3 linked regions of the Homo sapiens genome follow. The protein of the gene in region 1 purifies or fractionates together with the protein of each later gene. This does not show direct contact. Each region holds a gene or a part of one and is shown in the gene's direction. Other genes may lie near its edges. The genes, in order: RBM34, CENPC and NPM1.

The links.
Region 2: the proteins of RBM34 (region 1) and CENPC purify together in Homo sapiens (affinity purification with mass spectrometry; 2 studies listed by BioGRID and IntAct, with this or other methods). This does not show direct contact.
Region 3: the proteins of RBM34 (region 1) and NPM1 purify together in Homo sapiens (affinity purification with mass spectrometry; 4 studies listed by BioGRID and IntAct, with this or other methods). This does not show direct contact.

What each region holds. Positions count from the first base shown.
Region 1 is NC_000001.11:235,140,736-235,144,387, reverse strand, and holds part of RBM34 (RNA-binding protein 34), read left to right. Parts: intron 1-3,652.
Region 2 is NC_000004.12:67,507,372-67,511,023, reverse strand, and holds part of CENPC (centromere protein C), read left to right. Parts: intron 1-1,918; coding exon 1,919-2,210; intron 2,211-3,652. UniProt on the Homo sapiens protein: Component of the CENPA-NAC (nucleosome-associated) complex, a complex that plays a central role in assembly of kinetochore proteins, mitotic progression and chromosome segregation.
Region 3 is NC_000005.10:171,401,303-171,404,954, forward strand, and holds part of NPM1 (nucleophosmin), read left to right. Parts: intron 1-3,652. UniProt on the Homo sapiens protein: Involved in diverse cellular processes such as ribosome biogenesis, centrosome duplication, protein chaperoning, histone assembly, cell proliferation, and regulation of tumor suppressors p53/TP53 and ARF.

The sequences.
Region 1 (3,652 bases):
TTTATCATCTCGAGTTTCTTCTAACCCTCTGCAATATGTCCCTCCACCTCTGTCCTCAGGCAGCCATTCATTTGCTTTCTGTCTCTATGTGTTAGTTTGCTTTTTCCAGAATTTTATATAAGTAGAGTCATCATACAGGATATACTCTTGTCTAATTTGCTCAGCATAATGATTTTGAGGTTTGTTTTTTTGTGGGGGAGGGTTGGTGGAGGGGAACAGTGTCTTCTGCTGTTGCCCAGGCTGGAGTTCAGTGGCACGATAATGGCTCACGGCAGCCTTATCACCTGGGCTCAAGCAGTCCTTCTGCCTCAGCCTCCTAAATACCTGGGACTACAGGTGCTCGCCACCACACCCGGCTGATTTTTAAGTTTTTAGTAGAGCCAAGGTGTCACTAATGCCCAGACTGGTCCTGAACTCCTGAGCTCAAGTAGCCCTCCTGCCTTTGCCTCCCAAAGTGTTGCAATTACAGGCTTGAGCCACCGTGCCTGTCTGAGATTTGTTCTTATTATTGCAATGCATTGGTAATTAATTCGTTTTTATTGCTCAGTAGTATTCCCTTGTATGACAGTATTTGTTTATCCATTCACCTGTTTATTGTGTTGTGTTGTATTTATTGTGATGTATTGTACTGTATTGTACTGTATTGTATTGTGATGGAGTCTTGCTCTGTCGCTCAGGCTGGAGTGCAGTGGTACCATCTCGGCTAATTGCAACCTCTACCTCCCGGGTTCAAGTGATTTTCATGCCTCAGCCTCCCAAGCAGCTGGGATTACAGACACATACCACCATGCCCAGCTAATTTTTTCATACTTTTAGTAGAGATGGGGCTTTGCCATGTTGGCCAGGCTGGTCTAAAACTCCTGACCTCAGGTGATCCGCCCGCCTCAGACTGCCAAAGTGCTGGGATTATAGGCGTGAGCCATCGCACCCGGCCCCATTCACCAGTTTATGAACATTCAGGTTATTTCAGCCTTTGGCTATTATACATAAAACTGCTAAAAAAAATTTGGGTACGGATCATTTCTTTTGAGAAACTGCCTGGTCGGATTGCCAGATCTTACGGTATATTGTAACTTTCTAAGAAGCTGCAAAATTGTTTTCCAAAGTGTTTGTACCATTTTACATTCCTACCAGCTATCGATGAGAATGTCAGTTGCTTCACATCCTCACCAGCACTTGGCATTGTCATTTAATTTTAGACATTCTGAAGGTTTGTCAACCACAGTGACTAAAAATGTTAGGCATCTTATGTGCTTACTATTTGTATCTATTCTTTGGTGAAATGTTGGTACAAAAATTTTGCCCATTTTTTAGTGACTTTTAAATTATTTTTATATGGTTGTAAGGAGTTATTTATATATTCTAGATATAACACCTTTTCCTGCTATGTGTGTTTCAGATATTTTGCTCCAGTTTGTGGCTGGCTTTTTTAGAGGTGTCTTTTTTTTTTTTTTTTTTTTTGAGATGGATCCTTGCTCTGTCACCAGGCTGGAGTGCAGTGGTGCGATCCCAGCTCACTGCAACCTCCGCCTCCCGGGTTCAACTGATTCTCCTGCCTCAGCCTCTCAGGTAGCTGGGATTACAAGCGTGCGCCACCACACTCGGGTCATTTTTGTATTTTTAGTAGAGACGGGGTTTCACCATGTTGGCCAGGCTGGTTTCGAACTCCTGACCTCAGATGATCCACCCACCTCTGCCTCCCAAAGTGCTAGGGTTACAAGCATGAGCCACCACACACGCCCAGAGGTGTCTCTTAAAGATTGAAAGTTTTAAGTTTTATTGAAGATCTCATTTAGAGAGTGCTGTTGTTGGCCAGGCACAGTGGCTCACGCCTATAATCCATTACTTTGGGAGGTCAAGGTGGGCGGATCACCTGAGGTCAGGATTTTAAGACCAGCCTGGCCAACGTGGTGAAACCCCGTCTCTACTAAAAATACAAAAATTAGCCAGGAGTGGTGGCGTGCGCCTGTAATCCCAGCTATTCTGGAGGCTGAAGCAGGAGAATCACTTGAACATGGGAGTTAGAGGTTGCAGTGAGCCGAGATCATGCCATTGCACTCCAGCCTGGACTGCAAGAGAGAAACTCCGTCTCAAAATAAAAAAAGTGCTATTGCTTGTCAGTTGGCTTGGTAGTCTGGTGGGAGTGGGCGCAGCAGGGTCTCTGCTGTCTTGTCTTAGTGTTTCCGTGTCTCAGGAGTGCACCTGATCAGGGCTTTTTTCCCGGGGCAGCCAAGCTGTGCCAAATGCCTTGTACCTTTAGTGGGGATTATGCAGAGGATGTTTCCCACCTCTCCCCCGGTAGCTGGACTCCTCCCTTCCTCCGGCTGTAGGGGTCTTCTCTGTGCCCTGGAGTGACAGGGTTTGCTATCCCTCCCCTAGCAGCTTAGCCTTCTCCTCCATCAAGAGAATGTGTCCGGAATTGGTGGGTTCTTGGTCTCACTGACTTCAAGAATGAAGCCGCGGACCCTCGCGGTGAGTGTTACAGCTCTTAAGGTGGTGCGTCGGGAGTCTGTTCCTTCTGATGTTCGGATTTGTTCGGAGTTTCTTCCTTCTGGTGGGTTCGTGGTCTCACTGGCTCAGGAGTAAAGCTGCAGACCTTCGCAGTGAGTGTTACAGCTCTTAAGGCAGCGCGTCTGGAGTTGTTCGTTCCTCCCGGTGGCCTCGTGGTCTCGCTGGCTTCAGGAGTGAAGCTGCAGATCTTTGCGGTGAGTGTTACAGCTCATAAAAGCAGCGTGGACCCAAAGAGTGAGCAGTAGCAAGATTTATTGCAAAGAGTGAAAGGACAAAGCTTCCACAGTGTGGAAGGGGACCCGAGTGGCTTGCCACTGCTGGCTAGGGCAGCCTGCTTTTATTCTCTTATCTGGCCCCACCCACATCCTGCTGATTGGTAGAGCCGAGTGGTCTGTTTTGACAGGGTGCTGATTGGTGCATTTACAATCCCTGAGCTAGATACAAAGGTTCTCCATGTCCCCATCAGATTAGTTAGATACAGAGTATCGACACAAAGGTTCTCCAAGGCCCCACCAGAGCAGCTAGATACAGAGTATCGATTGGTGCACTCACAAACCCTGAGCTAAACACAGGGTGCTGATTGGTGTGTTTATAAACCTTGAGCTAGATACAGAGTGCCGATTGGTGTATTTACAACCCCTGAGCTAGACATAAAGGTTGTCCAAGGCCCCACCAGAGCAGCTAGATACAGAGTGTCGATTGGTGCACTCACAAACCTTGAGCTAAACACAGGGTGCCGATTGGTGTGTTTACAAACCTTGAGCTAGATACAGAGTGCCGATTGGTGTATTTACAATCCCTGAGCTAGACATAAAGGTTGTCCAAGGCCCCACCAGAGCAGCTAGATACTGAGTGTCGATTGGTGCACTCACAAACCTTGAGCTAAACACAGGGTGCCGATTGGTGTGTTTACAAACCTTGAGCTAGATACAGAGTGCTGATTGGTGTATTTACAATCCCTGAGCTAGACATAAAAGTTCTCCAAGGTCCCACCAGAGTAGCTAGATATAGAGTGTCGATTGGTGCATTCACAGACCCTGAGCTAGACACAGGGTGCTGATTGGTGTATTTACAATCCCTGAGCTAGACATAAAGGTTGTCCACATCCCCACCAGACTCGGGAGCCCAGCTGGCTTCACCC
Region 2 (3,652 bases), on another chromosome or scaffold:
TGCCTGAAATGCTAAGTACTATGTGGCAGATGAATACATAAACAGATGGGTAAATAAATTCTTACAGAACTTGGATAAATGTGCTAGATCTCTGAAACTATCAAAAAACACTTATTTAAGAGTCCTGAAATAGATGTTGGATTTTTGATCAAGCTGGGAGTCGAAAAAGTGGAGGAATCTTTATATATCATATAGTCTAAACTCTCATCTGATGGAAGAAGAAACTGAAGTCTGAAGTTAAGAAGAACAACTTGACCTGCCCCCAGCCTGCCTGTCGTACGTGTGACACTGTTGCCCTTCCATATATATGAAGAAATGTATATGGAGTACTTGCCATGGGGCAGGAATGAGGTAAAGTAGGACCAGGACTAGGGTAAGACAATGAGACACTAGGGTGAAAAATTTAAGGCAGTCAGTCACAGGATTGTATCAGTTCGGGCTCTGTACTTGCACAGACCTGAAAATGAGTACCTTCTTGAATTTTCCAGCTGAGGCTACTCTTGCTTCACCATAGTCCTGCCCCTGTCATTAGGCATTGGGAATATACATAGATAAAATACCAATCAATTACTTGAGGTCAAGGAGTTGTTAGTCTGCTGGAGGAGAGAAGTAGAGATAAGTAAACAGTCGTATGTGTGATAGCAAGCTACCTAAGACTTGGAAATTAGGGAAAGCTTCCTGAAGGATGAACTAGGAGTTAGCTAAGTGATTGAGTGGAGTAAGGAGGAAGTTATGGAATGTTTTAAGTAGAAGTAGCTTGTGCAGAGATCTGGAGCAGAGAGCTTGATCTTTTCTTTCTTTAATTTAGTGTGCTTTAGAATTGTCTGGGGGGCCTATTAAGGCACAGGTTACTGGGCCCTGCTCTGCAAAGTCTTTGATTCACTGGGGTCTGAGGTGAGGCATGATAATTTACATTTCAAATTCCCAGATAATGCTGATCTTGCTGGTCTAGAGACTGCCTTTGGACAACCAGTGCTTTAGAGAAACTGTAGATTGTTCATTACTGATGGCTTTTTTTGGTTTGTTTGTTTGGAGGGGGGTTTTGGGAATTGTGGTTTATGAAATAAGCAAATCTAGATGTAGATATGAATTGATGTTGAAGTATTTGGACTTCATCCTGAAGCTATAGATAATAACTAAAATACTTTAATTAAGCAGAGTTGTAATGATCCAGTTTTTGTTTTCCAAAGGTGATTCTTGCAGCAGTGTAGGGAATGGATTGAAGAAAAACAAGGCTAGGGAGGGGGAGATTAGTAAAGAGACTGTTTTAATAATCCAGATATGAAATAATGAGGACTTCTACTAATGACAGGAGGGAGAGCTTGAAAGATTTGAAAGGCATTAATAAAGTAGAATTGATGGGATTTAGGGCGTGATTGTGGATAGGAGTAGTAGTCTTGCATGACTCAAATTTCTGATTTAGATATCTGGATAGAATAGGTAGTTGTATTTTTCATTAAGATAGGAAATAAAGCAAGAGAGGCAGATATAGGGGAGAGCAGTAGATGGATATTATAGGTGTCAGCATATAGATAGTAATTAAAGCTCTGGGTAGATAAGTCCGTCAATGAAAGTATATGGAGTGAAAAGCTGAAGCTGTCACCTTGGGGAATATCAGATATTAAGGATGGCCAGAAGGGCAGTGGGCAGAGCCAGAGAGTGTTTCTTGAAGCCTGTGACAGATTTGAAGGGCCTGTTTCATATATCTATAAACTGAAGAGCTACATTGTTTAAAGAATTTAATTTGGAAATAAATTTAGCCTGAGATGTGTGTGTGTGTGTGTGTGTGTGTGTGTGTGTGTGTGTGTGTGTGTGTATGTGTATATGTTTATATGCAAATATAAATGCTGTTGGTATTTCAGTGAGCCAAATCATCTGGACAAACTTACTAACTTTAGGTTATCATTGAATCCTTCAGGTCCTGTTTATAGCAATTCTTCAGTAAGAAATGAATTACCAATGCATCACAATAGTAGCCGAAAATCTACTAAGAAAACAAATCAGTCATCTAAGAATATTAGGAAAAAAACTATTCCACTTAAAAGGCAGAAGACAGCAACTAAAGGCAACCAAAGAGTACAGAAGTTTTTAAATGCTGAAGGTTCTGGAGGTATCGTTGGTCATGATGAAATTTCCAGATGTTCGCTGAGTGAGCCATTGGAAAGTGATGAGGCAGACTTGGCTAAGAAGAAAAATCTTGATTGTTCTAGGTAATGTCTGTTATGTGTACAATATAGTTACTTTTGTTGTTCAGCATTTAATAATTTGTGCTATTTAGTCATTTATGGACAGGCAGTAATTAGCATGAAGAGCTCTGCACTCTGACATACCTGGTATTAAATCCAGCCTCTACCATTAGCTGGATGACACACAGGCAAAGTAGTACTCTGCACTTGTTTCCTCATATTAAAATAGGGAATAGTACATAGCACCTGGAATTATGACTGTTAAATTTAATAAGATATTATTGTCATCCAAGAGTTAAACTTTTTTTTTTTTTTTTTTTTTTTAAGAGACAGAGTCTTCCTCTGTTTCCCAGGCTGGAGTGCAGTGGCGTGATCATAGCCCACTGTAACCTCAAACTTCTGGGTCAGATAATCCTTCTGCCTTAGCTTCCTGAGTAGCTAGGACTACAGGTGTGGACCACCACACCTGGCTAATTTTTTAATTTGTTGGAGAAATGAGGTCTTGCTTTGTTGCCTAGGCTTGTCTTGAACGCCTGGTGTGAAGTGATTCTCCTGCCTTGGGCTCCCAAAGTAGAGATTCAAAAAACAAACAGACAAAAAACACATAACATAAAATTTACTGTCTTAATCTTTTTTAAGTGTATAGTTCAAATTGTTTCCTTTTAAGTGAGATTAATGTGATTTCAATAGTTAGGAATATAGCTTAATACTTTTCTTCTTAGGATGATAATAGTTAACATTTTTTGAGTTCATACTATGTGCCAAATATTTGCTAGATACTTTTAATGAATTCTTATTAGTTCCAACAACCTATTGAGGTAATACATACTTTGTGTTGGAATCAGTAAGGTGCTGAGGATATACTGAAATAAATGACAGTGTGTCCTAAAATATATTAGCGTATATCATTATAGTGCATAAAGAAATCCCATACCCATTCTGTTTCACTTTTTCAGGCCATTCTCTGCTTTTCTCTCTCTTTTATTTTATTGTGTTGCTGGAATTTGCTAGTATTTTGTTGAGGGGTTCTGATCGGTAGCTTGCTTTGCTTCTGTTGTCTTTGTTTAGTTTTGGTATCAGGGTAATACTGGCTTTATACAATGAGTTGGGAAGTATTATCTCTCTATTTTTTGAAACGGTTTGTGAATAATTTGTCGTAATTCTCTTTGAATGTTTGGTAAAAGCAGTGAAGCCACCTGTGCCTGAGCTTTTCTATATGGGTAGTTTGTTTTTGATTACTGATTCATGGTATTTTGAGACTGTTTCCTCTTGAATCAATTTTGATAATTTGTGTCTTTCTAGGAGTTTGTCCATTTCATCTAGGTTATTTAATTTGTTGGCATACAGTTGTTCCTAGTATTCTCTTGTAATCACTTTTATTTCTTTTGACTTTAATGGTAGGACCCAGGAGGATACTAGAACCTGAAGAATTATACAGTCACTAGGAAGAGTGTATCTTGTTTGCA
Region 3 (3,652 bases), on another chromosome or scaffold:
ATTGCACCACTGCACTCCAGCTTGGGCAAAAGAGCGAGACTCCGCCTCCAAAAAAAAAAATCAGCTTGTTGTGTGTTGTAGGTACACACACACACACAAACATACTAAATGTAAGGTGGTGGGGCGGGGGGAGCCAATAGACTTTTTTGAAAGAGATGGACCCTCACTTTGTCACTCAGTCTGGGTTAGAGTTGCGTGATCTCGGCTTACTGCAACCTTCACTTCCCGGGTTCAAGCGATTCTCCTGCCTCAGCTTCCCAAGTAGCTGGGACTACATGCGCGTGCCACCAGGCCCAGCGTATTTTTGTATTTTTGAGTAGAGATGGGGTTTCACTCTATATGTTGGCCAGGCTGGTCTCAAACCCCTGACTGCAGGTGATCCGCCCTCCTGGGCCTCTCAAAGTGTGTGAGCCACCACGCCTGGCCTGAATTTTTTGTGATTGTGAAGTCAATAGTTGTTTCCTGTAAGGAATCTTTGTTGAAAGGTATGTCTGCATAGAGTAGAAGTTCTCAACCTTGGCTGCATGTTAGCTTGAAGTAGAACATTTGGGCCTAGACAGGGTGTATTGATCTCATTCCTGACCCTACCCACTTCCCTGCAGAAAATGGAATTTAAAGGAAAAAAAGTTTAAAGGAACCCCAGTACTTGTGCTCTACTTATGGAGATTGTCATAAAAATGGTCTGGGGTGGGCGCCAGGCATCAGACTACAGTGACTTTCTTGCTTTATTCTTAGGGATTTTCTGATTTCCTTTTTTTTTTTTTTTTAACCTGATGAAATAGTTTATTTACAATTTAAACGAATAAATTTCATATTCTACAACACATATAATCTATTGACTAAATGTAACTAATGATGAACCTCCATACAAACAACCCCACTAAAAAGTGGGCAAAGGACATAAACAGACACTTTTCAAAAGACATACAAGTGGCCAAAAAGCATATGAAAAACAGCTCAATATCACTGATTAGAGAAATGCAAATCGAAACCACAATGAGATACCATCTCACACCAGTCAGAATAGCTATTATTAAAAACTCAAAAAACAACAGCTGCTGGCAAGGTTGCAGAAAAAAGGGAATGCTTACACACTCTTGGTGGGAGTGTAAATTAGTTCAACCATTGTGGAAAGCAGAGTGGCGATTCCTCAAAGAGCTAAAAACAGAACTACCATTTGACCCAGCAATCCCATTACATTCCCAAAGGAATATAAATCATTCTACCATAAAGATACATGCACACAAATATTCACTGCAGCACTATTCACAATAGCAAAGACATGGAATCAACCTAATACCTGATATGGTCTGGCTTTGTGTCCCCACCCACATCTCATCTCAAATTGTAATCCCCACGTGTTGGAAGAGGGGCCTGGTGGGAGGTAATTGGATCATGGGGTAGATTTCCCTCTTGCTGTTCTGTTGATAGTGAATTCTCATGAGATCTGGTTGTTTGAAAGTGTGTAGCACCTCCCCCTTTGTGCTCTCTCTCTTCTGCTGCCATGTAAGATGTGCCTTGCTTCCCCTTTGCCTTCTGCCATGATTGTAAATTTCCTGTGGCCTCCTAGCCATGCTTCCTATACAGCCTACAGCACTGTAAGTCAATTAAACCTCTTTTCTTCATAAATTACCCAATCTCAGGTAGTTCTTTTTTTTTTTTTTCATTTTATTTATTTATTTATTTATTTTTTATTTTTATTTTTTTTTTAATTTATTTTTTTATTGATAATTCTTGGGTGTTTCTCACAGAGGGGGATTTGGCAGGGTCATGGGACAATAGTGGAGGGAAGGTCAGCAGATAAACAAGTGAACAAAGGTCTCTGGTTTTCCTAGGCAGAGGACCCTGCGGCCTTCCGCAGTGTTTGTGTACCTGATTACTTGAGATTAGGGATTGGTGATGACTCTTAACGAGCATGCTGCCTTCAAGCATCTGTTTAACAAAGCACATCTTGCACCGCCCTTAATCCATTTAACCCTGAGTGGACACAGCACATGTTTCAGAGAGCACAGGGTTGGGGGTAAGGTCACAGATCAACAGGATCCCAAGGCAGAGGAATTTTTCTTAGTGCAGAACAAAATGAAAAGTCTCCCATGTCTACTTCTTTCTACACAGACACGGCAACCATCCGATTTCTCAATCTTTTCCCCACCTTTCCTGCCTTTCTATTCCACAAAGCTGCCATCGTCATCCTGGCCCGTTCTCAATGAGCTGTTGGGCACACCTCCCAGACGGGGTGGTGGCCGGGCAGAGGGGCTCCTCACTTCCCAGTAGGGGCGGCTGGGCAGAGGCGCCCCTCACCTCCCGGACGGGGCGGCTGGCCGGGCAGGGGGGCTGACCCCCCCCACCTCCCTCCCGGACGGGGCGGCTGGCCAGGCGGGGGGCTGACCCCCCCACCTCCCTCCCGGACAGGGCGGCCGGCCGGGCGGGGGGCTGACCCCCCCACCTCCCTCCCGGACGGGGCGGCTGGCCGGGCAGAGGGGCTCCTCACTTCCCAGTAGGGGCGGCCGGGCAGAGGCGCCCCTCACCTCCCAGACGGGGCGGCTGGCCGGGCGGAGGGCTGACCCCCCCACCTCCCTCCCGGACGGGGCGGCCGGCCAGGCGGGGGGCTTACCCCCCCACCTCCCTCCCGGACGGGGCGGCTGGCCGGGTGGGGGGGCTGACCCCCCCATCTCCCGGACGGGGTGGCTGGCCGGGCTGAGGGGCTCCTCACTTCCCAGTAGGGGCGGCCGGGCAGAGGCAACCCTCACCTCCCGGACGGGGCGGCTGGCCGGGCGGGGGGCTGACCCCCCCACCTCCCTCCCGGACGGCACGGCTGGCCAGGTGGGGGGCTGACCCCCCCACCTCCCTCCCGGATGGCACGGCTGGCCGGTCGGGGGGGCTGACCCCCCACCTCCCTCCCAGATAGGGCGGCTGGCCGGGCGGGGGGTTGACCCCCCCCCACCTCCCTCCCGGACGGGGTGGCTGCTGGGCGGAGATGCTCCTCACTTCCCAGATGGGGTGGCTGCCGGGCGGAGAGGCTCCTCACTTCTCAGACGGGGCAGCTGCCGGGCGGAGGGGCTCCTCACTTCTCAGACGGGGTGGTTGCCAGGCAGAGGGTCTCCTCACTTCTCAGACGGGGCGGCCAGGCAGAGACGCTCCTCACCTCCCAGACGGGGTCTCGGCCGGGCAGAGGCGCTCCTCACATCCCAGATGGGGCGGCGGGGCAGAGGCGCTCCCCACATCTCAGACGATGGGCGGCCGGGCAGAGACGCTCCTCACTTCCTAGATGTGATGGCGGCTGGGAAGAGGCGCTCCTCACTTCCTAGATGGGATGGCGGCCGGGCGGAGACGCTCCTCACTTTCCAGACTGGGCAGCCAGGCAGAGGGGCTCCTCACATTCCAGACGATGGGCGGCCAGGCAGAGACACTCCTCACTTCCCAGACGGGGTGGCGGCCGGGCAGAGGCTGCAATCTCGGCACTTTGGGAGGCCAAGGCAGGCGGCTGGGAGGTGTAGGTTGTAGTGAGCCGAGATCACGCCACTGCACTCCAGCCTGGGCACCATTGAGCACTGAGTGAACGAGACTCTGTCTGCCCTGATTTCCTTTTTTGAACTGACTTAGTACTGTGCATAAAAGCAAACTCCCAAGTTACTCTTTTTTTTTTTATTTA